4 linked regions of the Homo sapiens genome follow. The protein of the gene in region 2 purifies or fractionates together with the protein of the main gene of each other region. This does not show direct contact. Each region holds a gene or a part of one and is shown on either strand. Other genes may lie near its edges.

Region 1 (6,927 bases), on a different chromosome or scaffold from region 2:
GACACTCTGCCTGGCTCCCCACAGCCTGATTCTGTACCCCAATCCTCTCTGTACCCTGGGAATATTAAGAGAGACACGTTTTAATCTATTTTTATTAGCTCATTGCTTATTAATATCACCAAAGAACCTGCTTGTTTAGGCCTGTGCTGGCTTTTCTAGCCAGAGGCAGAATGATTGGACTGTTTTCTTCCCTTTCCTTAAAGGGCTTAAAGCCAGGGTTTCCCAACCTTGGACATTTTGGATCAGATACTTCCTTGTTGTGGCGGGGCTGGTCTTGTGTACTTATAGGATGTTTTGCATCATCCTTGGCCTCTACCCACTGGATACCGGTAATACAACCTCCCTAACTGTGACAACCCACACGTCTCCAAGCATTGCCAAATGCCCCCTGAAGGGCAAATCCCCCCATGGTTGAACCACTGGTTTCAGGGAATATAAAAGCCTAATTTTAGAGATGGCAAAGTGTTCCCCCTTGACATCTTGCATCTTGCTGGAGGTTGGGAGGGAGAGGGTCGCTTCCTCTGGGCCTCAATCTGTAATGAGGGGCATTTGAATGAGTCTAATCTAAAAGTTTCCTTCAGCGCCATCATTCAATACTGAAAACCCACCTCAAAAGGGTGGGTCTTCAGGTTGCAGCATTGAGTTGTGATGATGCCACTGCACTCAAGCCTGGGCGACAGAGCGAGACACTGTATCAAAAAACAAAAAAGCAAAAAACTGGTCTACCTCCTAAAAGAAAACACAGATTATGCAGTTGCTGTTCGTAGGTTTCAGCCTCATTGTTTCTGCTGTGCTTGGTTCGGCTTTGCTTTTGCTTCTTTCTTTAGAGCCAGGAGAAGGTACAGAGTTTAGGGATGTGAAGTGCTAACGGGGTGGACATCTGATCTCTGGCACTTCCCAGCTGTGTGACCTTGGGCAGCTCACTTCACCTCTCTGGGCTTAGTTCCAGGTTTCTAACAATGCCACCTACTTCAGGAATCAGTCTATGTAAAGCACTAATTTAGAAGTAACTGCTGGGATACTCACTGCAGTGGGGCTTTAAGAGGAGCTGCTGAATGGATTTCTAGATTGAGACCTGCAACATTTGGTTTTATTTCCTGCTTATCAGCCACATTCCATGAAGCCCAGGACCAGCCCTTCGTAGGCCTGCCCCAGGCTTTCTTTTCAATCTGTGTTCCTCCCAGGATTCCATCTGCCACCATACTTTTGTGTCTGTCCCCAGCCGAATTGCTGTTTTCCAGATAACCTCAGACCTACCCGAATGCCAACAGCATTCCTCAAACAGAGCAGAGCTGCCAGAATAAGCCAGCAGCTTCCTGCTCTTTGCCCCAGAAAACATTTCAAGTGATCAAGTGATCAGAGAGAGGGAGGGAGGCGGGGAGGATGCTGTAGCTGCTTATGCAACAAGCTTTAATCCCAGGTTAAAATCCACCACGCACACCAGCGGCATATTTTATTTCCTCATTGGTTCGTGGACTTAGCTGCATGGGAGATCTGCCACCAACCCCACAGTCCTGTTTGTTCCCCTCAAAGCAGCACCCGCAGAAACAAACAGCATTCCATATGGGATGGCGGTGGAGGGCCGCTGCCCACACAGCTAGGAGGGTGAGCACGCACTGCTTCACTGTGGCCTCCACCTCTCGCCTCCTCCCATTTAGTCTCCCCATGCAGCTTTCTACCTCCAGGAAGAGCAGGCCCCTCCCTTTTGGTGAGGCCCAGGCCTGCTGTCCTGAGCCCTGGAGCTTTGTCAGGTTGGGTGGCCATGGAGCTGTCCCTCCCTGCAGCTTGGCCTCAGCAGCCTAAAACAGTAACAACAGCAACATCCTGTCCGTTTTTATAAAGCCTGGGTCCTGCCCTGCCGTACAGTGAGTTTCGATTCCCAGCTCGTTCCTGAGCCTGTTTGATATGAGATTCCCGGCCAGGAAGAATTTATGTACAAGCAGTGGGCATCTGTTGTCCATGTGGGGGTTGGGGGGGGGCAGGGAAAGCAAGCCATCAGCTCTTCGTTTTCTTTGTGGGAACCGTGTGGGACAAGAAAGCCCACAAGTCCTAATTTTAGGAGGAGAGGGGAGACTTTATTGCTCCGGAGTTATGCCTCCTGGCATATGGCTGCGTTAACTCTGGACGCTTTCTCCAGCCTCTAAAGAATGGTGTTTATTTAGCTTCTGTGGTTCCAGGTTGCTGTTTTAAAAAATCCTGTTAATTAAGCACCTTGTCATTTAAAATGCCGAAGAAGGAAAGAGAGCGAGAAAGCTGGGGACATTTTACGGTCCTTTTCTATCTCTGGGTACAGACCAACTGCGAAGGCAGCTTTAGGGAGGAGACCAGCAAAGACCTCCTAACGCAATTGAAGTGGGTAGAATTGTAAGCAGCTCTGAACAACCAGTTAATATTTTACTGGGGAGCGGTGCCAGAGATGGGGGGGTGGGGGGGCTGCCAAATGGAGGGCTGTGTGTGAAATCGCTGCTCCATCTGCCTTGGGGGACGAAAAGAAGCCGTTCTCTGTGCAAATAAATGGAAGCAAGAATCCTTAGGAAGCCCAGGGGATTTGTCTGCCCACCGAGGAGGGCCCAACTCCCCCAGGCACACACATACAGGGATGATTGTGGCAGGAAGGGCTGACCTACGGGGGTAGGCCTGACGCATAATGGGGGCTCTTGTTTCCGGGCTGAGCGTGCCATCTTTCTGTCTCCCTCTGGATTGAAATGGCTTCTCAGCCCGAGAGGCACTGCCTGTGCCCTGGATTCACAAGGTACACGCCTCCCTGGGAAGCAAAGGCTGAGAGACAGCGGCTCTCTCTCTCTCTTTCTGCATCTGCCGGGAGAGCTGCAGCTGGTATTTTTCCACAGGCCTTCGCTGCGATCTCAAGGCCTAGTTTTTCCCAGCCAGGCCCCGAGTCCGAGAGAGGGTTAACAGGCAGGAAGCCGAAGGCATCGCAGGCTAATACGGAAGTCAGATTTGTGTTTAACTGACAGGTTTAGCAGGTCTCGGCCGCGGGGGAGGGGCCGGGAGGGAAGGGAAGTTTGTAGATCCAGGCATGTGGCCTGCGAGGAGGGCTTTGGGTTTTTCTTAGGGTAAGGACCGAGAGGGGTCCCCCTTGGCATCGTGGCAGGGCGACAGGAACCCACGTTGATTTTGCCTGCAGGACTGGCTAAGCAGGGCGCGAGAGGCCCACGGCTCCCTGGCCTGCCTTGCAAGGAGGCATGGGGACAATGACTATGCAAACTTGACCACTCTGCTCCCCTCCTCCCCTCAGCAGCTACTCCTCGCTCCTCTGAGAAGCCAGGGCTGCTCTCTGCTGATTTTTCGGGGCTCCCCCGGGCTGCCTGCTTCCCCCAGCTTCTCAGAGGCCTGCCTCAAGCCCCTTTTTCTGGCCCCTTGGCTGTTTCCCCGGGACTCCCCACTCCCCAGCTTCCCCTTCCCCTTGGAGAGCCACCCTGCTGGACTGTTCTAGAAAAAGGCTGGCCTTCCTCCCTGGACAAGGGCCGTTTCTCTGGGGGCAGGTGAGGGTGAGCCGTTCCAGCCCACTCCAAGAAACTCCCTTCCCAGGGACCTCCGGGCCTCAGGCTTTCCTGGAGCAGGTCAGGCTGGCTGCCCTGGCTGGCCCGTGCCGGGAAATCTAGCCAGGGTGCAGGAGAAGTGCGTGTGGGGGCCCCTTTCCCAAGTTTTTCTTGCTGCAAAAGGCCTAGCTTAGCCTGTCTTTTTCTATGCACAGGATGGCTCTTGCTCACCCGAGCCTCACAAAGATAATCGCTCAGGAAGTGTTTCAGCCAATCCGGGGCGGCTTTACACTCCGATTTGCCGGGGCAGCCAATCGGGGATGAGCTTTTATTAGGCGGCCAGATCATCAGCCGAAGTGCCAAACCCTTTTTCTGTGAGAACTAGGAGCCTGTCCTCCATGTTTTATAAGTATTGACATTACACAGTGTTAACAATGCATCCACAGAGGTAAGCTCGACTTTTTAACCATCTTTTTTCCCCCTCCCTCTGAGACATCCGAATTGTGGGCGAGCAGTGTGATTTCTCTGTGGCTGGCCGTGCCACACTCACCCCCAGAGCACTTATGTTAACTTGGAACTGTTTAGAGAGAATTTTTTTGCTTTCTTGGGTCACATGGCTCAGTAGCCATTAGCCATAGCTTGATTTTGCAAACTGGCAAGGGCCTGGCACACCTTTCCTTCCACCAGGGCATGGTGTTTCTGGAAGAGTTTGAAGCTAGATCCTGGTATGCCAAAAAAGAAGCTTTTTTTTTTCCTTCTTTTTTTTTTTTTCTTTCCCTCTTCCCTCTCTCTTCCCCTCTCTCTCTCTCTGAGCAGTTCCCCCCCTCCCACCCCTGCACTATTGTCTTCTCTTTTGCCACATGCCCTGCTGGGGGAAGAAAATGGAAGGTAAGCAAACAGGCTCCTCTCCAAGGAGAGCTCATGGCAGACAGCAGAGCAGGCAAGTTTGCCTCTCCAAAGAGGTTCTGGGAAGGCTGGATAAGTTTTGACAAGAGAGGAGCGTGTTTGCAAAAGAATTGTGCCCTCAGCAGAGCAGTGCTAAGGAGAGTCTAGCTCCTGGGGCCTAGGTGGGTGGTGGTGTCTGTACACGGTCTTCTCTTATTCTACAGAGCTTCTGCACTTGAAACTACATTGTTCAGCCTGTTTTCCTGACTTAGGTTGCTACAGAGTGTTCTGCAAGCCAGCCTACAGCCAGCAAATGTTTCTGAAAGTGTTTTCTAGGCTTTGGAGGAAGTTTTTTGGAGTAGGGATGGGGACTGGGGGGTGGGGGGAGAGATCTTGGACAACATCCTGCAAAAAAAAAAAAAAAAAAAAATCTGCAAGGATTCTGAATCCCTTAGCTTTCTACTCTTGCATGATTTTCAAGGAACTAATGTTACCTTTTATCCTTGTTTTCATTTTCCTGTCCCTTTTATACATTGTATCCTCCTCTCTTCTCCTGTGTCATGGAGTGTAGAGGAAATAAAATCATGTCTGTGGCTCATGACAGCATTCCATATTCAGTTGTTGGGTTGTGTTGTTGTTGTTGTGTGTGTTTTTAATAATACCATGTAACTGTTTAAAAAAATTTCCTTTTTGATCAAGTCCCAAATCTGCCAGCCTGTTCTCTCTTCCTAACTGTGGAAAAATGAGACGGTTGCTTGAACATTTGTTGGGTAAGTAAAGCAATCCATTTCCTCTGTGACCATGTTTGAAGAGTTTTGCGAACATTTGGGGTCTGTTTGTAATAGTGGGTCTTGGCTACAGGAGTTGGGGGCTTCATTAGCAGGAACAAAATAAGGGCTTTTTAAAGAGTGTCTTGATTTTAGGTGACTGTTTGAATCCACTGTTTTTCCTGATAACCTGCAGCTAGGATTGAAGATTATACTTCCTGTTTACCCTGAGTCAGGGGAGAAATGTTCAGTTCATTGTGACTTGACTCTAGACCTTTAATGGGGTTTGTTTGGATATTCAAACTGTGAGTAGGTGATGTGCTTGTGAAATGTCATGAAACTGCTTGTTCTTAGAGGTGCAGAGCCCTAAAAACATTGGTGGTGTAGAAGCTGGTGGTGGTGGTGGTATGTGTGTGTTGGGGGGGTGGTGTCAGTGTGCTCATGTTTTAGGACTTATGTATAGTGCAAAATCTCATCTACCACCAGACTGGGTTTGATTCAGGACTCACTGACCAACACATTTTGGCCTTTTTTCAGGTCTCCTCCACACATCTGTATGCATGCTGGCCCCACATAAGATTTCTCACTTTTTACATTTCCCTTGACCACTTAAGGCTGCAGCTAGAAGTTAAGTGGGAAAAGTAGAGTCTTGTTTAGCAGTACCTTCAGAATTTCCCTAGAAGTTCAGTACATAAATTTTCAGCTTGGAGACCAATCCGACATGACCGTAAATGCAGGAAATATATTCAATTGCTGTGTTATGTCAACTTTATGGAGTCAGTAATCTTTTTTCTTTCAAATGAGTGTCCAGTAGCCCACTTTCTGACACCGAATTGGAAAAAGGCTCATTTAATCAGCAGAAACGTACCACATTCTAAGTTGAGAAAAGTCTGTGCAAGGCAGGCCAGCTTAGCTTCTTAGAGTAAAACTGCAGGCAGTTAATGATGTTATATACTTAAAACTGAACAGTGCCACTGCCCCAAACAAGTAAGTTCAGACACTCAGCTATTTTCTTTGTTCTTATCTCCTTGCTGTAAATGGAAATTACATATCGAGGTTCTTGTGGCCTCCCTAGAAGCAATATCTAATCATAAGACTCCTGGTTTGGTGCCTTCAACGTTTGCATAATACTGTGTTTGTTGGGCTGGAAGGGAACTTAAGGGCAAGGCATTTGTCCTCTAAAAGCTTGCATTAAAATGGCTCCCACAGGTTTGGAGAGCCAAGATCTGTTTTCAAATGTACAGCCCCCAGCAAGTTCCCAACCCTGGACCAAGCTAGCCACTTTTCCTCTGGTACTGTGACCCCTACCAAGCATGAGTCTGTAAAAAGTTAATTGCTTTCAAAGTAGCATTATTTTCCAGTTTCAGGAAAGGGGGAAAAAAATAAATGTCTGCATTGCAGCAGGACTAGGTAGGGACGGCAGTACTGGCTCCCAGAGCAGCCCAATGGGGTTCTTCTACTCTAGCTTTTAAACCAATAGACTTGGAGGAAAGGTTAAAGATTGACAATTGCAGTGGCCGAACTAAGAACGGGCCTTCTGGAAATTTCTACCATCTTTGTTCCTTTTAGGAAAAGCAGATCTGCCAAGCAGAAGCGTCTCCTACCTTCCATTCCTAGGTCATCTCCCTTCCCTGCTTCCCCCCAACCCCCCTTCTTTTTCTCATCAAGGTAGAATGTTCTCTCTGCCACGTTTGTAAATTGCAGAAGGAGGAACAGAATGTTGGGCTGTTTTCCTTTTTCCTTCTGCCTCCTCAGTCCCCAAAGAGGATACACAG
Region 2 (7,025 bases):
ATAATGTAAGAATATTCTCAGTTGGGAAAAATGATTTATAAACATTTTTAATGACTGTGTTAAAAAACCATCATACAAAAAGAAAAGAAAGTTGTTTTCAACTTAAAAAAAATCCTTATATAATGTACCACTCATCTGGGATATGCTTCTGGGAGGGGGACACTCCCTGCTTGGGCTGCAGCAGAAGGCAGTGGGGAGAAAGTCTTAAAGTTCTGGGAGTCAGGCTAGCCCCTCCTGCAGGTGTCCTCATTGCCACTTCTTGGTCCCTGTGGTCAAGGTTCAAAGTGCCAAAAGACCCACTGATCGAACCTGAGACTGTTGAGATGTCCTGTTCCCAACAGAGAGTATCTGAACTCCAGAAACTTCCCTCTCAGGCCTCCACTCCCCCCTCCTTTGTACTGTGCATCCTACTCTGACTTCCGTGGCTGGGGCAGATCAAATGTACATTCTCAGTGTCCCCTGGTAACAACCTCTCCCTTGCCTCTGATTTGCGAGGCACAGACAAAGCTGACAAGGCCTTCTTCCAGGAGGCTGCTCTGCTTTCTCCTCTCCTACCCCAGCTTTTGGCTCCTGGCTTCTCTGGAAAGCCACAGGACTCCACCAGCTTCTCTCTGCCAACAGTTCAGTCTTCAGGGCTGGAGCTGCAGGGTCTGCGGAATTCCTGTCCATACTCATGTATCCACTTGTTGGCCACTGGGAGAGAACAGGGAAGAAGGAGACAGCAGGCTCAGCAGAACAGACAGCAGCAATGCTGCAGACTGGTGCGCACTCATAGGCGCGTGTGAGTGCCCCCTTAAATTCTGCATCCTAGGTAACTCACTTGCCCAGCCTAGTCCTGGCCTCACTATGGACTACAAGCTGTTTCTTCCAGCAGATAAATAGCAAAGAGGACATTGTCCTCTGGAAAAAAGTCACAGGTCCTGTCTCCTGTAAACTCATTTTCAAACGTTTGGGAACTAAGATCACTCACCCTTCATTTTAGAAGCCCATGTTCCCCATGAAGCCATTCCAGAGTACTGAGAGAAAAACGGGTGGCATCTCCTGGCAGCCTCCACCTCAGCTTATGAGCCCCCTTCCACTTCTCTTTCTGTTTCAGAGCTAAGTGCTCCTGGATGTATATGTGACATAAACACGTCCATCTGCTTATTGATCTCTTCTTTGTTTTCCCACCTCCTCATGGGGAGCACTAAACAGGAGAGACAATGGCTTGACACATCTTTCCTTGGGGTAGAGTGTGGATGGGACACCATATTCCTCTCTGGCAGTGCTCAGGAATCAAGGCCTATCTGGTCAGGTGAATAAACCTTTACTGACTGTCACTCTGTAACAGGAACCCCTGCCTGTTATAGGCTCCCAGTCTGTTGGGGGCACCTCATTCATAATCTGATCTTCTCAATATAATGTGGCACTGTAATGAAGCGTTTGGAATGGGATGGCTGTGGTAGGTCCCACCCATCCCCTGTTTCACTCTACTCTGCACCCTGTACCCCCTTCTCATGCCCAGAAAGGCAAGACTTACCCCACTTATCTCCCACCAGGACAGGACAGCCAGCATGAAGTGTGTCACTGTCCCCTTCACCACTCCTGTGCAGGTTCCACCAAAACAGTGCTGCATTCTGAAACAAGAGGGCCCAGCCCCAGGGAGGGTCAGCCCAGAACCTCAGTCCTCGGGAAGCACATACTAAGGACAAATGCAGGCATGTCATTGAAGAAGCCTTTCCATGCAGTCTGGGGGCAATGCATGCATAAAATGGCACAAAATGGCATAAGTTGCCATTTACTCCTTCATGCATGGGTCACTGACAGAGTCCCCTGCACCCCAGGTCCTGGGGCTGCAGGGACAAATTACGTCCAGTTCTGCTCTCCAGGAGCTCACAAGAAACAGACATAAAACAGACCTGAACAAGACAGCATGGTGAGTTCTGGGAGAAAGGTGAGCACATTTGTCATTGGGTCACTGAGGAGAAACACCGAACAAAACCACAAGGTGGAACAAAATATTCCCATACAGCCAAGCATGTCATTAACTCAGAAGCTTTTCCTCCCTCAGGCACTTATGATTAACACTTTCAGGGAGCAGGCAGTATCATAATCCCCAGTTTCCTAGCAAAGAACTTGAGGCCCAGGGCTTTAAATAATGCAATAAAAGAAGGAGCAAAGTGAGGACTCAAGCCCAGGTGTTCTGACGCTAAATCCTGTATGTTTTTCCCCCATACACGGCTTCTTTGCCGTATCTACTTCCTGTAGTCAAATTACTTTAACCTTGGTCCTCAAAGTAGACAAAACTCCAGGTCATGAAGAGCTTTCCAGGATGCATTGGCAGTCTCTATGTTCCTAAGCCTACAAGAGGCGTCAAGCTCCTGAGTATTCAGAGATACCTGGCATTGATTATCGAATGCTCAGGATGTGCCAGGCACTGTACTACCTGCTTTACAGGAATGATCTCGTTTAGTTATCTTCATTTCATTCCTAAATTAGGTAAGGGCTGCCAGGGAGTTGGACTGATCTGAAATTTGGAGGAAATACTCATTCATGAAGCAAACCTCTTAGACTCAGTTCTCCTCAGCGCCTATCCTTTCCAAATCCCTATTGCAACATCATAATGCCTGCTGACGTCTCTGTAAACTCCTGGATCAAAGGGCTATGAATTTCCCTCTGCACCCTCCGTGCCTCTAGCTCTCAATGTGGACTGAACTAATGATGGAAGGAACTAGATGCTGTAGAGGATCCAAAGTAAATAAAACAGAGCTCTTATCTTGAGGAGCTGTACTGTGACAGGGAAGACAGACATGTAATCATCTACTTGCAATATAAGTGTAAATAAAATAACAAATAGAGGCACAAGTGACGAGCATGTGTGCGGTAGTAAAGAAGACTATGGGATGATCTGTGATTCTGGGAATTGGGGAAGACCTCTTTTTGGCCCTCCTCCCAGGAATGGGCTTGCAAGCACAGACAGCGTGAAGGTTAGAGGGTAAGCGCTGCACTCCCTCAACCCCGTCTTCTGGGACCAGGGCCCCACTCACCCTAACCACAGGCACGCTGAGGTTGGCATAGATGAAGGCTGTGGCTCCTCCAGCTTCCACCGAGCTCAGCTACAAGACCAGAGGAAGAAGCCAGAGTTAAAACTGCCACCGACTTCCCTACCCTGTCATATGATGTCACATCTGCATAGATTCCTTCTCATGGTCTTTTCTTCAACTCTGAGAGAAATACTTGAAAGACAATCATCCAACTCAGGAGGAACTTCGGGAGCCTACTCAATGGCATTGGTGTTTGCCTACAGGGCCACAAGAGGACAATGTTTTGGTATTCTTCCTTTCTTTCCCTTCCAGCTAACATCCTTATTGAGGGCTACAATAAGTAGATTCAAACTTTTTGACTGAGACCCTTAGGAAAAAATACATTTTAAATAATGACCCAAGACACACACACATACACACACACACAGACACATACACACACACACCTCCTGAAATATAATTGTCATAAAACATTCTTAATATCTGAGATAGCTTCTGATCTTCTCTACTTTATTTTATTCTATTCTAGTGTGGTTCTCTTAAATGCTCATCAGAACCACTAAATTAATCTCACAACCTATAATGGATCATGACTTGTGGCTTGAAAACCAGTTTAGACTATGATTCTTCTTGAAAGCTGGGCATCATAGGAACTACTTATTACACCTTTGGCATATTCTCCAGATCACTCTGCTCCTCTCCAGGGAACCCAAGCTAAGGAGTTTCATCACTGGTCTGTTCTAGGACTATGGATATGTTTTCTTAATGTGAAGCTTTTTTTCTGGTTGTCACAGAAATATATAATAATTGTAAACTGTTTTAAAACAGGAAAATATTTTTAAATAACAATAATTATCATTGTACCATCCAGAAAAAAGTTATAGTTTACATAGTGATAGTTGACATTTATTGGGCACTGACTATATGCTAAAAGTTACACTATGTCCTTGCAAATATATTATCTCATTTATTCCTCAGAACAATCCTAGGAGTTACAATCGTTATTATTTTTAACTCTTCACATTTTACAGATAAAGAAACCAAGTCTCAGAGAGCTTAAGCACTTTATAAAAGGTCACATGGCTCTTCCATGATGGAGTCAGGATTTGAGCTGAGCTGGTGCCATGTGACTACAAAGTCCCTGCTCATAACCATCATGCTACACATTTGGAAATTTAGGTCATATCCAAATGTTTACTATTATAAACAACACTGCACTGAACAACTTAATGAAAAAAAATCATTTTGCATTTTGGATTGTTTTCATAGGAAAGAGTCTTGGCACTAGTATTATGGGGTCAAAAGGACATGCATAAGTTTCATACTTCTTATACATTTTGCTAAATTATTTTTTCAGCAGTTGCATCACACAAGAGTGCCAGTTTTACCTCACGCTGCCTAGCATTATCTACCAGAAGGTTCATGCTCTGTAATCTTATGGCAGTCAGATCCCGGTACATTTACTTGTGTTACAGAGCAAGAGGTATAGGAGGTAGGACGCTGGCCCTTGGTAGATGCAAGTGAACTGACATGGTGATTTGGAACCTGGAAATGGCAGTGGTGACTATTAGCATTCCTTGGCTCTCCCTGTAGCACACTGGGAAAGCCGATGAGAACAACAATTGGCTCCTTGTGTTCAGGTAACAAATTAGATTATTCTATTCTAGCCCTTGTCAGTAAGGGGCAACCTGGACTTTCCTGCATTCTTTTACCTGTGGTTTTACAATATGGTGGAAAGGAATGACATAGCCAACACATTAAAAAGAAAATCGGATTCTGCATGCAATGAAGCTCATGAGCACGGCATGGGCTGTAAGAACAGTGGGAAAGGGAGAGAAATCTTCCGTCTGTATACCTTCTACTATTTTGTACTGGGGCTGATCTTTTTTTTTTAATAGAGACAGGGTCTCACTATGTTACCCAGGCTGGACTCGAACTGCTGGGCTCAAGCGATCTTCTTGCTTGAGCCTGCCAAGTAGCGGGGACTACAGGTGCACACCACCGCACCCAGATTGGGACTGATCTTATGTCCAATCTGAGCAGAAAATCACCAACTGGACTTCAACTCAATCCTCTGTACTTCTTAAAGATTATTTTCTCCCTATAAAATCAGTCTTAGGTTTCCCACAAACCTTAACATTTGTCTTGAGAAATGTTTGTCTTGAAATTGTCTCGAGAAATCCCAACCTGAAGATGAAAGACTTGGGCATAATCTAGCACTTCCCTGGTCCCATGATACTGATTCCCCTTTATGATACCCTTTCCTTTAATTGCTCTGTGGGATACAATGACAGAAACATACAGTATGGAACTTTCCAGAGTGACATCCCTCCTTACATTATCTCATCAGACCCTCACAACAACACTGTGAGGAAGCACAGGGCAAAAAGTGAGCTCACATAATAGATGTAATCTGTGCTGAGGCCACATAGTAAGTGGCAAAATCAGGATTAGGTCAACTGACTCCAAATCCAAAGTGTATTCCATTCCACTCTGTCTCAAATACTTAAAACCCAAATGCACATGCATGCACACACATGTGAAAGTGCATGAGAGTGCATGCACACACATACACACACACACACACACACACATGCATTTGCCATTTAAAATTACTGGGCTCTTATACCCACGCTACCTTCGCTATAGTAACTGGGGCCCTGTAACCAGGGAACCAGCCATAGGAGATATTGAGGGGATAAAGAACAGAGATATATTGTGCCCTAGATGCCCTGTTTTTTGGCAGCAGTTCATTCTTTCGCCGTTTGTGACCTCCCATAACAGCTGGAGTGGTCAACCAGAGATGCAACCAACTGCAGCTCCAAGATGTGTCCCCTGCCTGATAGCTGACCTCAGAATGATCAGAATGAGGCCAGACACCATTGTAAGTGGAAGCCTTCCAGTTCCATAGGAAGTACAGAACTGAGCCACATAGAGAAACACACTGGAATTGCTGGCATTAAAGACTACACAGAATGCTGGCCTCTGACTGCCCTTTCTTGGCTGTCCTGTGGAGACCAGAGACAGTCCTAATAGAAGAGGAAAAGCTGGGGTGAGGGATGTCTGCTATTCTAATGAGGCTGAAACAAGGACTTCATCTTTGGTTGTTATATAGAACCCTTATATATGTTTGTCCCTTCAGTTAACAGTAAGGTATCTCTTCTAATAAGTGATTAATTCTAATATTCTCTTCCAGTGACAGGTGATTGGAAGCTTGTCCATAGAGACGAAAGTAAACCCACATGATCTGAAGGGAAGGGGACAGGTGAGATGATACAGACTGGGGCCGAATCCTGATCAGGCCAGGAATTAGGAGAGAAGTACAATTTATTGGTTTATCTTGAAAGGGGAGTCATGGAGATTTTACTGAAGATTTTATAGAGAGATAAGGAAGAGAATTTTCACTAAACATCAGAGGCAGCACTTGCTGAATTTCTCTCAGTGTCTCTGTTCTTCCCTCTTGTAAATCTGCTGCCTCATTCCTCATCCATCTCCCTCCCCACAGCCCCACAACCTCATCTATGGGTTGTTTTTCAACACTGATTAGTCCATGAGACCTCAAGGACACAGATTCTCAGATCCTCCTCCTGTGTTGTTCAAGTCCCTCTATCTCTTGGCCTTCAGTGGAGCTCCACTTCCCATCCTAATCCACTGCCCATACCAAGGTCATATTTAGATTTACACACTGTCAGCCTCTTTCAGGGTAGAAACCTTGTCTTGTATTTCTTTACATCTCCTACAGTGCCTATCAAAAATGCTGTCTGAAATTCGCAAAATTCCTGGAGATTTTTGCGCTGAGTACCAGATAAAATCAATACGTGAAATTGCTTTGAAAACAATAAAATAAAGTAGAGCTATAGTCAGTCATGAAGTAAGAAGCCCAGAGCAATACTCACATAGATCATAAATGTTGCAACTCGGTTTCCTGACTTCATTCTGTAGAGGGGGCTGCTTGGTGACTGAGAAAAAAAAAAACAGAACATATTATTTTATGCAGATGGC
Region 3 (7,025 bases), on a different chromosome or scaffold from region 2:
GTCACCTGAGAACATTCAACCAGCAGTTTGTCCTCAGAGCATGCAAACAACTTTATCACAAAGACTCAGATCTTGGAACATGTAGGCCATGTAGTATCAATATTTGTATTAGGTGTGAACCATATGGAATTGCCACTTCTGTAAGCCATTGGCAGTTCCACAGGTCTGACCTATTCAGATTTCAAGCCTGCATTCTGAGTTAAACATTCATTGGTGGGCCAGGCTGGGAAGACAGCCATCATTTACCCTCTTGTGGGAAACGTGGGCCAGGTGAAACAGGCAATACACCTTCCTCCTCTCCCTGCCCATGAAGCCAGGGCTGCTTGGGTCCTGGCGAGGAAGCAGCGGGCAGACCAGGAGCAAGCTGCCGTCCTCCTCCTCCTCTGACCCCCGCCATCTGCGGGAGCAGCCTGGCTCGGAGAGTGCTCATGGGGCCAGGTGTTCCCAGTGTGAAGCCTGTTCATCCGGACTCCTGGCGAGTTGGAATCACTCGCTGGACAGACACGTCCTCTCTGTGCTGCACGAACCACAAAGTGGCATCACCATAGCCATCACCACCAGCATCAACATCAGGCTTTCATTTTGCTCATTGTTGAAGTGGAAATGGGAAGCGTTTTGTAAAGTGGTGTACAAAAACACCACATGTGGATGTGCATCAGAACCCAATTCACAGTGGATTGATTTGTGAGTAATATCAAGGGCAATAATGATAATCATATTGTATTAGGGTAGGATTTTGATTTTGTCTATATGTTTCACTTGGTTTTACTGCTAGGGGGGCTCATGGCCACAAAGAGGGTAAGTGATTTGTGAGCTGCCAGATGGCTGTTTTGTAAGGAAGCCAGCCCAGGAATCGAGATCTTGTGGCTCCTGATGAGAAGTGCTCGTGCTCATGTGGTCCAGACCCTCTCCAGCTCACCTCATGCTGTCACATATGAAGGTCTGCAGTATGCAGCAAGCCTGACACAACTATCCCATAGTTTGTACATGTGCACGAATTCACACAGAAAGAAGGCAAACTGACCCCAAATAAAATGCCCTGATAAATAAGGATCAATCACTTAAGACTGGTGACAGAACCCAAATCAAACCATGTACTATATGATTTCCCAAGGACAATAAAATAACATTTTCTTCAAAAAAGTTGCTCAGGGCTTTTTCTGCCTATTCTATTCTCCCATAAACCTAACACCTCCCCAGCTCCCAATAACCAATCATGGACGATTCCTGAGATCAAATGACAGAGCACAATCCCAAGTCCCAACCTGCCCCACAGCTAAAGGGAAGAGCTGGTGGGGAAGGGTGTGGGGCACTCAGCATTCATTACCTCCATGGGCCCTGGCTCGGCTGTGTCCCCCAGCGAGTGGCTGTCACTGTGGAGACCCGGGGGCCCGTGGGCAGCCTGCCTCCTCTCCTCCTTTAAGGCATGTTCCAGCAGCTTCTTGTTGAGGATCCGGGCCACGTTCTCAGTGAGCGTGTAGCCAGGGGGAGCAGATAAGTCCTGCTTCACTGGCGTGCCCTCTCCCCCTTCCTCCCTGCACATCTCTGACCCCACCCCAATGGGGCTAGGCGACCTTCCTCGGGAATTGGTGCCTGTTTCCTGGCCTGGGCCCAGCTCTGGTCGGGGCTCTGCTGAGCGAGACCGACTGCCGGCCCGCAGCCCCTTCTGGAAGGGGTCCTGCACCACGGGGCTGTGGTCAATGATGTTGAAGAGGCTGGAGAGGCCATCATTAATGGTGGTGTGCACGGGGCTCTCCCTTGTGGTGGTGGAGCGGGCCCAGGCTGACTCACTGTACCCTTTCTGGGCCATCCCTGGTGACGTCCTGTTATTTGGCTGGTCGGCTTTGGGGAGGGGCTTCCTCTGCAGCTTGGGAGAACCATACTTGGGGGAGCAGCATGTGCGTTCAAACTTGGCCTGCACCTTCTCGATGGCAGGGGCCACCTGTCTGCTCCTAAGGCTCCGGGAAGGAGACGACACGGGTGTAGCACCGCCCCCAGCCTTTGGAGTGAGACACTTGTGGGGGCTGCTGGTGACACCGCTGCCACGCAGGGCTTCAGTCTGCAAGCCCACACTGATGGTCTGAACAGTCTGGGTCCCCATCGTCCGGGACCCATTGGTCTGGCAGGCCATGTCCTTGACTTGCAGCTCGCCAGGGCCGGAGCAGATGGCATTCCTGACAGAGAAGGCCACCTCCTTCATGTCATCACTCAAGTTCTTGGACATCTCCAGGCTGTGCAGTGGGGAGGCAAACCCCAGGGAGGTACAGAGGGGACTATCAAGGGGGCGCCGTGCCCCCTCCACATAGTCCCGGGAGTGCCTGGGGGAGGTGCAAGGCCACCTGCTGAGCATGGGTTCTGGAGGGCCTCCCTTGGTGTCTCCCGGGCTCCCTCTGGCTCTGCTTGTGGGAAAGGGACCCTCACCACCTGCCGCCGTGATGCTGTCGACCCTGCGCACGGCAGGCGGGCTGTGTAACACGCGCAACCCCGACTGCTCGGTGAGGACGTGGCTCCGCAGTGGCTGCTTCTGGCAGTGCTCTGGGCTGGTCATGGTGTCCGTGGTCATGGTGACACTTGTGGTTAGGTACCAGGAGGAGTCGGGGAAAGGCTCTGTGCTGTCCTCGTGCCCTGCCCGCCCCACCTCGGTCCTGTCGGCCCAAAGGTCCGGCCCCCCACCATTGTGGCCCCTGTTGGGTGTGTAGTCCCAGCTCTTGTTGAACTCCTCGATGTACTTGAGGTCGTCTGGAGACAGGGGTGGGGTGACATCCTCCTTGCTGCTGGTGGACGGCAGGCCCTTCTCAGGCAGGAAGGGGGAGATGTCCATTAGACGCTGGAACTCAGACATGGAGGACACGGACACCGCCCTGGGAAAAGCAGAAAAGAGGGTGTCAGTACCTGCCAGGGAGCCTCTGACACACCACAACACCCATGTCCTGCCCTGCATGAGAAGTGTCAGTGAAGGCACCCGCTGCCACCCACACCAGGAGAACACTGTCAGCTGCTCATGTGCTGCACTCACAGACTTACCCTGCGGGCATTTATTGGACTCTGCGTGGCTCTGGAATTGTTCCTGAAGCCTTGCATTGGTCAGAATTTAATACAACCAACTCTGGCTCACACCCGTAATCCCAACACTTTGGGAGGCCAAGACAGGAGAATCACTTGAGGCCTCAGTGCCTCAGTGAGAATTCTCAGGAGACTCACTCGGACCACAGCTGAAGGGTGAAGACGGTGAGCCACGGCGATGGCCAGGTTTTGGCAAGCTGCCACCTGATGGACACAGATTTGGTGTGGATTCTTCCATGTGTTAGCACTTTCAATTTGCCATGAGTTCGCTGAATGCCTCTCACATGCCTGGCAGGTGCTGCAGGGGTGCCAGCAATGCTTCCAGGCTAAGACAGAAAGTGGCCGGAGTGCTCGGGCACGACTACCACCAGGGCAAAGAAGTGGTGGTCAGGAACGGGGCTGGGGCTGCCTGTGCCTGCTGGCTCAGGCAACAGAACCTCTTTGGCCTGGAATCCCTCCAGCTGGGGTGGGATGGGGCGATGAGGTGTCTGTAGACTCACTGTCCAGATTCTTACAGGACATACTGATACTCCTTTCACCCCACAAAGCACAGGCTTAAACCTAGGGATCTAGACTAGTGCAGGCCCTGTGGAAGGGGTCCCAGATTGAGTGTATGGACCACTCCTCCATAGGACCTATTAATGATGATGAGGCCAGAATTGGGGTCTGCTCTGAGCAAGTCCCTGTACCGTGTGCGCTGGTACACAGAACCAGCAAAGCTCTGGGCAGCTTTGCTGACAGCTGGCTTCACCTTGGGGGCAAGGCACCCGTCCATGTGGTCAGCACCACGGGGTAAAACAGCAGGCTAAAAGTGACATCGTTAGGCATTCCATCTTGTTATCTTTTTGTTGTTAGAAATAATCTACAAACTGTCCAGTGGTGCTTTGAATAACCACAAGCTGGCTATATCCAGTGCCGGAAAGGAAGGGCAATGGTAGGGATGGGTTGATTTGTCCCAAGGTCATGAGCTTTCCAGCAAGTATGAATTTCCCTCTTCTCAATTCAAGGAGTTGCTGAATTAATGATGAGTTTCAGAACACTGTTCGCTGGGGACTGTAAGTGCCGGACACATGCCAACACCCTGGTCCTTTCCACATTTCTGTGGACATAGCTCATCTAACTCCCACTTTTGCCCACAGAGGAACTGTCTCAGAGTTAAATCAGTGGCACCTACCTGGGTGGGAACTCAGTGCCTCTGGGGCATGGATGGATATGGTGGAACAGAGATGATAAAGACAGAGAAAGCAGAGGCATTAACCTCAGCAGTGGCCAAAGCAAACAAAACCATGATGAGAAAACCCGGGATACATCTGGAGCATGTGTAGGCGCTTGCAGGTGGAACGAAGAGAGTATGGTGGAAACATACCGGGCAGTCAGAATCAGAGGACATGGGGACAGTGGGGAGGGCGCATCCAGTTTCCACTTTGGATATTTTGAGACTATCTATCTATCTATCTATCTTTTTTTTTTTTTGAGACGGAGTCTTACTCTGTCGCCCAGGATGTAGTGCAGTGGCGCAATCTCGGTTCACTGCAACCTCCGCCTCCCGGGTTCGGTCAATTTTCCTGCCTCAGCCAATATTTACATTTTATAACAAGCATGTGTTACTTTTGAAAGCATAAAAGTTGATGGCTTGAGTGGTGAAGTACAGTTGCTCCAAAGCCTAACCGGAAACACTGATGTGGCTGCTGCTGTGAACGGGGAAGGTGGGAGGGTGTAATGACTAAACTCTGTTTACTGTTTGTTTTGTGCCATGTGCTGCTTTCATTATGTGTATTAACATACATAAGCTGCAAAAAAAAAAGATAATCAAAATACGTCCTGTATACAGATGAGGAAACTGAGGCACAAAGCAGTTGAGTAACCTACCCAAGGAGGCAGAAGCGATTCAAACCCAGGCAGTTTGGGCTGGGCACAGTGGCTCACGCCTGTAATCCCAGCACTTCGGGAGGCTGAGGCGGGTGGATCACCTGAGGTCAGGAATTCGAGACCAGCCTGGCCAACATGGCGAAACTCTGTTTCTATTAAAAGACAAAAATTAGCCGGGTATGGTGGGGTTTGCCTGTAATCCCAGCTACTTGGGAGGCTGATGCAGAATTGCTTGAACCCAGGGGGCAGAGGTTGCAGTGAGCCAAGATTGTGCCACTGTACTCCAGCCTGGGAGACAGAGCGAGACTCCATTTCAAAAATCAACCAACCAACCAACCAACCAACCAACCCAGGCAGTTTGGCTCTAGAGCCTGAGCTCTCAAGTACTGTCCTGTACCACCCAAGAAAGACCAGAGAAGACAGCGTGAAGGACAGAAGTGTGCCACAGGCATGGCTAGGTGCTGCAGAGATCTGGCAGGGAGCAAATGGGAAGAGGACAGTCATTCACAGACTCGAAGTTCAGAGGAAAATCAAGGATGAGGCGATCTGGAAATGCTGAATTGCCTGAGAAGAAATTTCATGTAGTAGAAACGGTATGTATTCATTTGGAGAATGATGAAAAAGTAAAACTGGAGGAAATTAAACTGGGGAGGAAAAAACTGGTGTGTAACTAACAACCACATCAACCACTATATATCTTCTTCAAGGACTACTGCCAGAAAATATTTTAATAAATTCTCTTAGTGGAGCTTTTAAATACAGTGTATAAAGCATCTCACAGCATACAAAAGAGAGTTTTCCCAGACTTTAAATGAGAAAAGAGAGGTTTCCATGGACCTTTCAAAAACCACTCAACACAAGCATTCCTTTGTATACATAACACAACAACAACTGGAAAGTCCTTACCATAAAACTCATACACATGTGACACAGCACGTCTAACTTCTTTGTTAATAATCAAAAATACCATGTTTATGAAATGAATAATAAAGCAGCCACTTCTTCAGAAGTGGCATAATTTTAAGTCATTTTGAAGAGAGTGGTAAAATAGACTGCATTGACAAAACAACATTTTAAGACCAAGACATTTTTATTCTAGTAATCTATTATTTTCATCAATCTTACTTACCTTTGAAGATTTCCTTTGTGATTTTCTTCTTCCTATAAAGAAGAAATAACTTCATCTGAATCGGTTAATTTTGGTTGTCCAGAAGCCCTGAATGTACTTAAGTGATTTGTTTGCTCTGCACCCCCAGGAAACCACCATTTAAAATGTGCACTGAGGCCAAGCTCTGGTTAGGAGTGCTACTGCCCTGAGGCCTTTAAAGTACAATCATCAAAGCGAGTCCACAGCATGATGAGGGGCTGGAGCTTCTGTAGTCCAGGGAGAAGCCCACATGAGTGAGAACAACTGGCTATAAACTTTGTCATGGAGGAGGTGGCTCTTCTGTGCTTCCTCAAAGGACCTCACTGACTACATGAATTTCAAAGCGGGATTTGTAACAACCTAAGTGTGAGAGTGAGACTGAGAGAGAGAGAGAGAGTGTGCATGTGTTATGTTAGAGAGAAAGATGGAAGGTGATAGAGTAACGTTAGTGGTCCCGATCTTGCTGTAGAAGTTGGCGTGACATCCTTAGACTCGGGCACTTGGTTGGTTTTAAACATTCCCATTTAGAATCAGAGGCAAAGTACAGTGCCTTCCCCTTTAAGAAGAATGATAGCTGTGTTTGTAGAGAACGGCATAAACACGAGGTTGTCTGCTGAGAAAACACTCTTGTGCTGATGTGGTTTTGAAGCAGCAAGACTCTGACTAACAGTAAGGGAAGCATATTTTTCAAGACAGTAAATAGCAAGGGGTACCCTTCCCCTTAATGAGCATGCCCCTTGTCTCTGCCATGCAGGGTCCAGTGGGCTGGAACCCACGCACAGGCTCCTGACCCCACCCCACGTTACCTCTACTATGTAATCGGACTGTATAAGATTGCCAATAGATCAGACAGGGTGGGACTGTGGCAATGTCCTATCAACCTGGTACACATTGCTGAGGATAAGGCATTTGACCTTACTGATGTGGGTGAAATATAATTTCTGCA
Region 4 (6,828 bases), on a different chromosome or scaffold from region 2:
AATAATACTTCGCCAACAGAGTACTAATGAAGCTTCAGAAGGCCTCACATTCAGAGAAATCAAGTTATAATGTTGGTATTAAGGCTCTATTTGCCCCTCAGGAGTTTTATTTTCACATTATTAACATCCAGAAATAATCGTCAAACTTTAGCATGTTACTAGCCCTGTATATTGAACTGAATCTAGAGATGTTTTTATCCAAAGGTGTAGCTTTAAAAGGAAGTTATGAAATCCAAGGAGAGAGAAACTCTAAGAATATGTTTGACTTGTTAAGATTAAGCATATCATTAATAAACTTTCACTTAAAGGTAAAAAAAAAAAATCCTCAAAATGTTGGTATCATTTCCAGACTGTCCTGTCAGCATCAGAACTTACAGGAAACGCTTCATCTTCCCATACAAACCCTGTATTTATTCACAACCCTGGCATACTTGGGGAAAGAAAAAAAAAAAAGCCCACACGATTTTAGATCCTGTTTGCTTTTATACGTTAACTGGTGGAATATCTGAGAGAGCCTTCTAAGCAAATGAGCGGCATGTAAAACTTCACAACAGTGAGTTCAGAAACTTTCATTCTCATTTTGTCCACGTCAAGAACTGGCTGCCCGCATGACTTTCCTCTGCTGTCCCTTGCATTTTTAACTCTGGCAGCCTTTTCTAAATGATCAACTTTTTCTAAAACCAGCAGGAAAGTAACATGATGCCAGCAAGATCCATAGGTTTTAGCTTCAGAGCTGGAGGACTTTGAAGAATTGTTGGAAGGTTCCTATTTTATTTTTGCTTTGAACAATCAAGTTTTAGCCAACAACCAGGCCCAGAGTTATCATTTCTTTGTAATTTTGTCTCAGGCCCTATCTGTATTTTTCTTTTGTACTTATTATCTCTCCCAGACCCTTTCCTTTCCTGTTCACCTGGTGTGTTTACAAAAGTTCAATGAATCTACAAAAGTTCAATGAATAGGCCTAACTTGTCTCAGATTTAACTCCTCCGCTGAGCTTCTCACTTCACTTACCTCGCTTAAACTCTAGCCGTGATTTTCCAAAATGGCATAAGAATGAATATTCTATCATAATTTAGATTCATCATTAAGATCAATGGCTTACTCAAAAAACTTTCAAAGCATCAAATATGAGGCCTAAAAAGATAGAGGGAAGTAAAGCCGGTCCTAAAATTTAATAAGTCCAAGATTCCCTCTGAAACCCACCAGTCCTTCTCACCCTCTAACTTAAATTGCTTTAGAGTCCTGGGGCCATAAAACAGTTGCTGACTTCCCTGGGGAAAGGGGGAAACACCACCATCTCAGACAGGTACTAACGAAAAAGCTTTCCCAGCCACAAAAACAGCTTTACACTTCAAACAGCTCCCACCGCCGCCTCACCCTCAAATTATTCCTGGGGTCCTATAATCCTGGAGTTATTTGGAGGGACAGCGATGTTTGCCTTGGCCTTTCAAAGATGCGTTTCTCTAGATCCCAAACAGGAACCAGACAGAAGGCAAAGCGTCTGTCCGCTTGGATGTCCCACCGCTGTCAGGCATTTAATCACCGGCCAGTGTCCCCTGACCCGCGCGACACATGGCGCATCAACCGCATCGCAGAGGAAGTCTGCCCCTTCCTCAGCCCCTACGGAAGCGCCCGGGCTGCAAGGCCCTGCCACATGGTACGGACAGGGCACAGACCGCTCGGCCAAGCTGTCCTGAGCCGCTCTGAGGCGGGTGCACCAAGGGATGCGACACCCGCCTTCTCCAGAGCCCAGCTGGGCCTTTAAGGGAAAAAAGTTTGAAGCCTGCATTTGCAAACTCTTCAAAGCCAAAGGCAGTCCTGTGCTGTTTTCCCACTTTGGAGACCATACGGAGGCCCGTCTCTGAGACCCTCCCGACCCTCCCGAGTTCGCCCAACTTACTACTCTGCATGCTGGTGCCTAGTCTGCGCCCCGCTTGTCACGAGCCCCCAGAAAACTTGCAGTGGCGGCGGCGGCGGCGGCCCCTCGGGTCCAACCACCTCCAGCTCCTCCGCTGCGCCCGGTAGGAGAGAATTAAAATCAGCCAGAAAGAGACAGCGAGGGGGAGTGGGGCTGCGAGGGGGAGGGGGCACCGGCCTGAAACTTCTTTTTTTGGCAAATGGGGATTTGTTTTTCCTCCTCCCCGGCGGCTGAACTTGACCCTGCTGACTCCAGGGGCTACTGCAGTTTGAAGTCGCTGGTTTCCAAAGCTCAGATGCCTCAGACCCACCAAAAGGAGGAGAGGAAGGGGGAAAAAGGGAGCAGAAGAGAAGAAAGAAAGAAAGAAATCACACGCTCAAAAAGGAAGAAAGAAAATGCATGTGAAACCCGAGAAGCCTGCGCTTGGCTTTCTGCACACTCTCCCTCTGCTTTTTTTTTTTTTTTTTTTTTTTTCAAAGAAAGTCACTTTTAATTCCCAGGGCTCCCCGCTCGCGATCGCCCACATTTTGCGCGCACACGAGCGGGCGCTGCACTCGCGTCGCGGCGCCCCGGGCCCGGCCGAGGGGCGCCCGCGCCCCCCGCGCCCCCCGCAGCCCCCGGCCCCGCGGCCCGCTCGGGCCTCCCCTCCTTACCTGTTGATTAATCGTCAAGAACACCCTCGGCAGCCCGAAAGATGGTGGCGCGGCGGCCAAAGCCATGAACCGTCTTCTGTTGTTTGCAGAGTTGATCTTGGATTATTGCGGGGGGGAGAGAAAAAGGTCTTTCCTGCCTCCCCCCCCTTTCCCTCCCCCACCCTTATTAAAAAAGAGAGAGAGAGAGAGAGAGAGAGAAAGAGAAAGGAAATAGAGCAAGGATGTGCCCGGTGCCGGGTGGGAGAGGGGAGGGGGTGTTGTTTTTTGTTTAAAAAAAAAAAAAAGAAATAGGAAGGCGAGAGAGCAATCGAGAGGACGCGAGGTCTGGAGAAACCAGCAGCACCAAAAAAGAGGACGCTAGAGATTGCAGTAAGATCGGGTCTTTATCAGAAATGTTATCGCTTGTCAGGACCTCAGTCTCCGCGCATTACGTCAGTTTCAAGACACCAACACTATTAATATCAAAGGAGCCTTCGCGGAGGAAAGCGCCACCCCAGACCGAGCTCCCTTAAAGAGACAGCGCGCGTCCCCGCGCCGCCGCCGCCGCCCCGCCCGGCTCCGAGCACCCGCCGCCGCCGCCCGCCGGGACCGGCCCCGGCCGCGGCGAGCCGGCTGCGCGAGAACTTCGCCCGAGTCGGAGCGCCGCAAATGAGAGCGGCGCGGTGCAGGGACCCGGCTACCTTCCCGCCCCGCCTCTCCCCCCTCCTCCCTCCCCCACCTCCCGTCTGTGAACGTGCGGGCTGGAAAAGGAGGAAAAATCCGAACGCGTTAGGAATAATGTGATAAAGACGAGGACTTACCTTGGGGTAGTGGGGGGCAGGTGGGGGGCAGTGCGTGGCCGCCAAACCGACGTTCCCCAGACACTCAGAGATGCTAACAGAAACAATTTAAAGAACTCTCAAAGTCCTTTTACCTTTTCTGTTGTTACTTTCCCTTCTCTCTCCCAATTAAACGACGCAGGATGTGTGTGTGCGTGTGCGCCCCCTCCCCCGCCCTTTATCTGTGGCAAGAAGTCTTAGGACACCTAGTTGGTGATCAGGATTCCCCACGATTTTCACGGCAAGAAGGCTTGAGGAGAACAACTTGAACTCTATCCTGAGTTGGAGAAGTGCGGACTGAGGTTGCTATGGTTTTCTGAGCTAAAGAGAAGCCAGAAACTCAATGGGTGCTTTAAGGGGGTACCACAAAACAGACAAAATGGGAACATTATTCAAATGCTGCAAGATTAATACATGCAGTTTGGGTTTTAGTAGCAGATAAGGAACTCTGAATTAAGCGTGACATTCTTTTTTACCTACTTTACATCTCCATATACTCTCATTATTAAGAGAAATTGCCTCAACATAAAGTTCACTGGATTGAGCTTTTTTTTTTTTTTTTGACTTCTAAAGATCAACAATGCATAAAACATTACCATGACAGGATTCAAAGTATAGTAGGTGTTAAAAACAAAGTAAACATTTCTTGGGCGTTTGGACTTCATTTTCTTCAGTTGGGTGACTTTAAGTGGCATGTTTTTCCTCTGGTGAAAGTCAGTTTAAAGTAATTTTGTGCTAAAAGGAGAAGCATCTTTCCTTTTCCAAACTACAAAATGATTAAAATTAGAATCTTAGGTACAATCATGAATCTGAGAGCCGAAGATGAAGTAATTTCCTCCAAAATATTTTTCACTAAATGATTCTTGCATCTTTTTAGAGAAAAGATGGGTATATTTTCCAAACATACTATTATCAGAAGTGAAAAAGCCAATCATTTTAAAAAATTAAAACTGAAGTAGGTGCTTTTAGAACCTTATTCCTTTTTCTCTATGGTCTTTATTTAATATACCTAGTCAAGCAGATATGTGATTTTTTTTTTGTAGCACATTTATTCCAGAAGTATTTTGGTACCGTTTCCCATACACTCTTTATGAGTAGAAAACCAATAATTCTTTTGCAATAGAGAAACTAGTCAGGTGAAAAAGTAGTCAAAATACAGTTTCACAATGAGGCAAACAATATATTTCCTAAAGGAGAGAGAAGACAATGAGCCTCATATGCCTGGAGTTATTCATATGTTATCATCCATTTAAATTAATTTGAGAACAGAGTTAGATTTATATATAGTACTGCATGCCGGGAAAATTAATATCAAAATCTTCAGTAAATCTCATAGTCAGCTACTAATGACCACCTGCATATTTCCACACTGGAGTCATTTAATACTGTCCACCACCAATTTCCACTGTAAAATGTATTCACATATTAAATATAGACCTTTTATTTTCTTTTTTTAAGCCATAAATTAACTTGCTGACTTTTATGGAAATATGCACGGCACAGTGAGAAGCATTTTTATTAAAGGAAAAAAATAAGGATCTGAGTGAAACATTCTTGAGCCATGACTAACTAAAAATATTAAATCAATTTTGAAATATGTATTCGAACAGTAAGACTGTTTTGTATTGAAAGGGTTAATATCACCTAAAACTGCTGAAGCTGGTATCTAACTGATAAAATCTGAGGCTATAGCATCTTAGCAAAGTTAAATAGTACAATTTATCACAAGGATTAGGCCCCTAATCTCCTTCTGCTCCCCAAGATTTAGATGACATTTTAAAAGGGGAAGTGATCTTCCTCTCCATCACCCACAAATCTAAGGCAATCATCAAGACTGTAAATTTATTCACATGAAACAATCATTGATTAAATTGGTTCAAAAAAAAAATGAAATTACATGCTTTTGCAAGCACAAAGCCCTTGAGATGGCTGGTGTTTTTCCACCTGTAATAATACAAAATTTGACTATTAAGTGTACCCAAAATTACATATTATATGAAAAGTTAAAGCCAAAGGTCTGAGGGTGAATTATGTCTTTTAATTGAAAGGATAAAGTTACACTTCAGGTACTGAAGCCAACAAATTCATGGTCACTTAAAAATTTAATGAATGAAGTTTCACGGACTCAATCTTGCTGAAGTTTGCCTGAGAAATGAAGAATCTCTTCATGTTACTTTTTGTATTTCAAGTTAGAGTAGAGCAGATCAAACTGCTGTCTGTATCAATTCATTTACATTAACCACAAAGGATCTGTAGAGAACTTAATAAAAGCTCAAATATTTTTGTAAACTTTTGCAAGCAAATTACTTATTTATTTATGAAATAATTTATGAAGAAAATTTTTACCTCATGCTTTAGATACATTACATGTGCTCTTGATTGACACAATATGTTTAAGCTCAAAGGCCCTCATAGCATTTTTTAATTCTAGTAGGAATATTTCAAAACAACCAACTAATACATGAGGTCATAATTGTTTGACAGTTGTTTTTAATGTATAAAATAAGTTACGTATATTGTTTTCCTTGAAATGTTTGTTGATTTGTTTTTCTAGTCCTGACATTTGCATGGCACAAACTGAATTAAGGGAAATATTAAAGATTTATTTACATTTAATACCTTCTGCTGTCAAACATATGCAAAACTCTTAAAACCATTCCCTTATTTGCAACGCATTTCTGAACAATGGAGACTGGATATTAAAAAGACAACCTGTGCTTTTATAGGACACACCAGAAAATAAAGAAGATATTAAGAGAAAGAAAAAAGCAAACAAAAGAAGCACATTTTAATTAAAATAATTTCTTTATAATCTTTCATAATTCTTTGAATTATGGAATCTTCTCTTGTGGCTTTAGCACTGATGAAACAGTTCCTCAAGCTGTATTATTAATGCATATTATTTATCAAAATGACATACTATAATATACTTTTTCTGTTTTATTATTTAAACATTCTTTTCCCCCCTTTTCTTGTAGTTTATTCAGCAGAGATACAAAGAGGGATTAGTAGTTAAGCACAAGCATACTTGTTTTACATTTTCAACCTTTTAGCACACTACTTACTTACAGTTCCAGTGCCTGTAATCACAATGATTTTACCTGATGGAACACGTATTTCAGAAATGTAATCCAACTGTTTACCCTAACACGTCATAAATTGCAATTCCTTTTAGAAACCTCAAAGATTGACAACCCTTGGTCCTAAATGCCGACTGCTTTAACACATACTATCAAGAAAACATTTATGTATTATTTGCTTTCAAGTTAGTCCTACCCCATGTGAAATGGAAGACCCTTTACCTTCCAGCATATCAAAAGCAATTATTGAAATACTCTGCCTTCCTTCACGGTAAGACCTGAAGGAACAGAGGCATTATCAGAGATGAACTACCTTAAGTTTATTTCTTCCCACAATCACTCGGCAATCAACGTTTAAA

What was found.
Region 1: the proteins of P4HA3 (region 2) and ZMYND8 purify together in Homo sapiens (co-immunoprecipitation; 3 studies listed by BioGRID and IntAct, with this or other methods). This does not show direct contact.
Region 3: the proteins of P4HA3 (region 2) and MTCL1 purify together in Homo sapiens (co-immunoprecipitation; 3 studies listed by BioGRID and IntAct, with this or other methods). This does not show direct contact.
Region 4: the proteins of P4HA3 (region 2) and TRPS1 purify together in Homo sapiens (co-immunoprecipitation; 3 studies listed by BioGRID and IntAct, with this or other methods). This does not show direct contact.

Annotation. Positions count from the first base shown.
Region 1 is NC_000020.11:47,353,678-47,360,604, reverse strand, and holds the start of ZMYND8 (MYND-type zinc finger-containing chromatin reader ZMYND8), read left to right. Parts: upstream 1-3,905; 5' UTR 3,906-3,934; coding exon 3,935-3,948; intron 3,949-4,168; exon of another isoform or gene 4,169-4,190; coding exon of another isoform or gene 4,191-4,225; intron 4,226-5,084; exon of another isoform or gene 5,085-5,155; intron 5,156-5,971; exon of another isoform or gene 5,972-6,927. UniProt on the Homo sapiens protein: Chromatin reader that recognizes dual histone modifications such as histone H3.1 dimethylated at 'Lys-36' and histone H4 acetylated at 'Lys-16' (H3.1K36me2-H4K16ac) and histone H3 methylated at 'Lys-4' and histone H4 acetylated at 'Lys-14' (H3K4me1-H3K14ac).
Region 2 is NC_000011.10:74,266,626-74,273,650, forward strand, and holds the end of P4HA3 (prolyl 4-hydroxylase subunit alpha-3 isoform 1 precursor), read right to left. Parts: intron 6,983-7,025; coding exon 6,920-6,982; intron 3,096-6,919; coding exon 3,027-3,095; intron 1,617-3,026; coding exon 1,520-1,616; intron 1,187-1,519; exon of another isoform or gene 971-1,186; intron 694-970; coding exon 623-693; coding exon of another isoform or gene 436-622; 3' UTR 32-435; downstream 1-31. UniProt on the Homo sapiens protein: Catalyzes the post-translational formation of 4-hydroxyproline in -Xaa-Pro-Gly- sequences in collagens and other proteins.
Region 3 is NC_000018.10:8,820,535-8,827,559, reverse strand, and holds part of MTCL1 (microtubule cross-linking factor 1), read right to left. Parts: intron 6,094-7,025; coding exon 6,062-6,093; intron 3,390-6,061; coding exon of another isoform or gene 3,344-3,389; exon of another isoform or gene 3,202-3,343; intron 2,862-3,201; coding exon 1,328-2,861; intron 6-1,327; coding exon of another isoform or gene 1-5. UniProt on the Homo sapiens protein: Microtubule-associated factor involved in the late phase of epithelial polarization and microtubule dynamics regulation.
Region 4 is NC_000008.11:115,665,974-115,672,801, forward strand, and holds the start of TRPS1 (zinc finger transcription factor Trps1), read right to left. Parts: upstream 3,003-6,828; 5' UTR 2,572-3,002; intron 2,041-2,571; exon of another isoform or gene 1,911-2,040; coding exon of another isoform or gene 1,901-1,910; intron 1-1,900. UniProt on the Homo sapiens protein: Transcriptional repressor. Binds specifically to GATA sequences and represses expression of GATA-regulated genes at selected sites and stages in vertebrate development. Regulates chondrocyte proliferation and differentiation.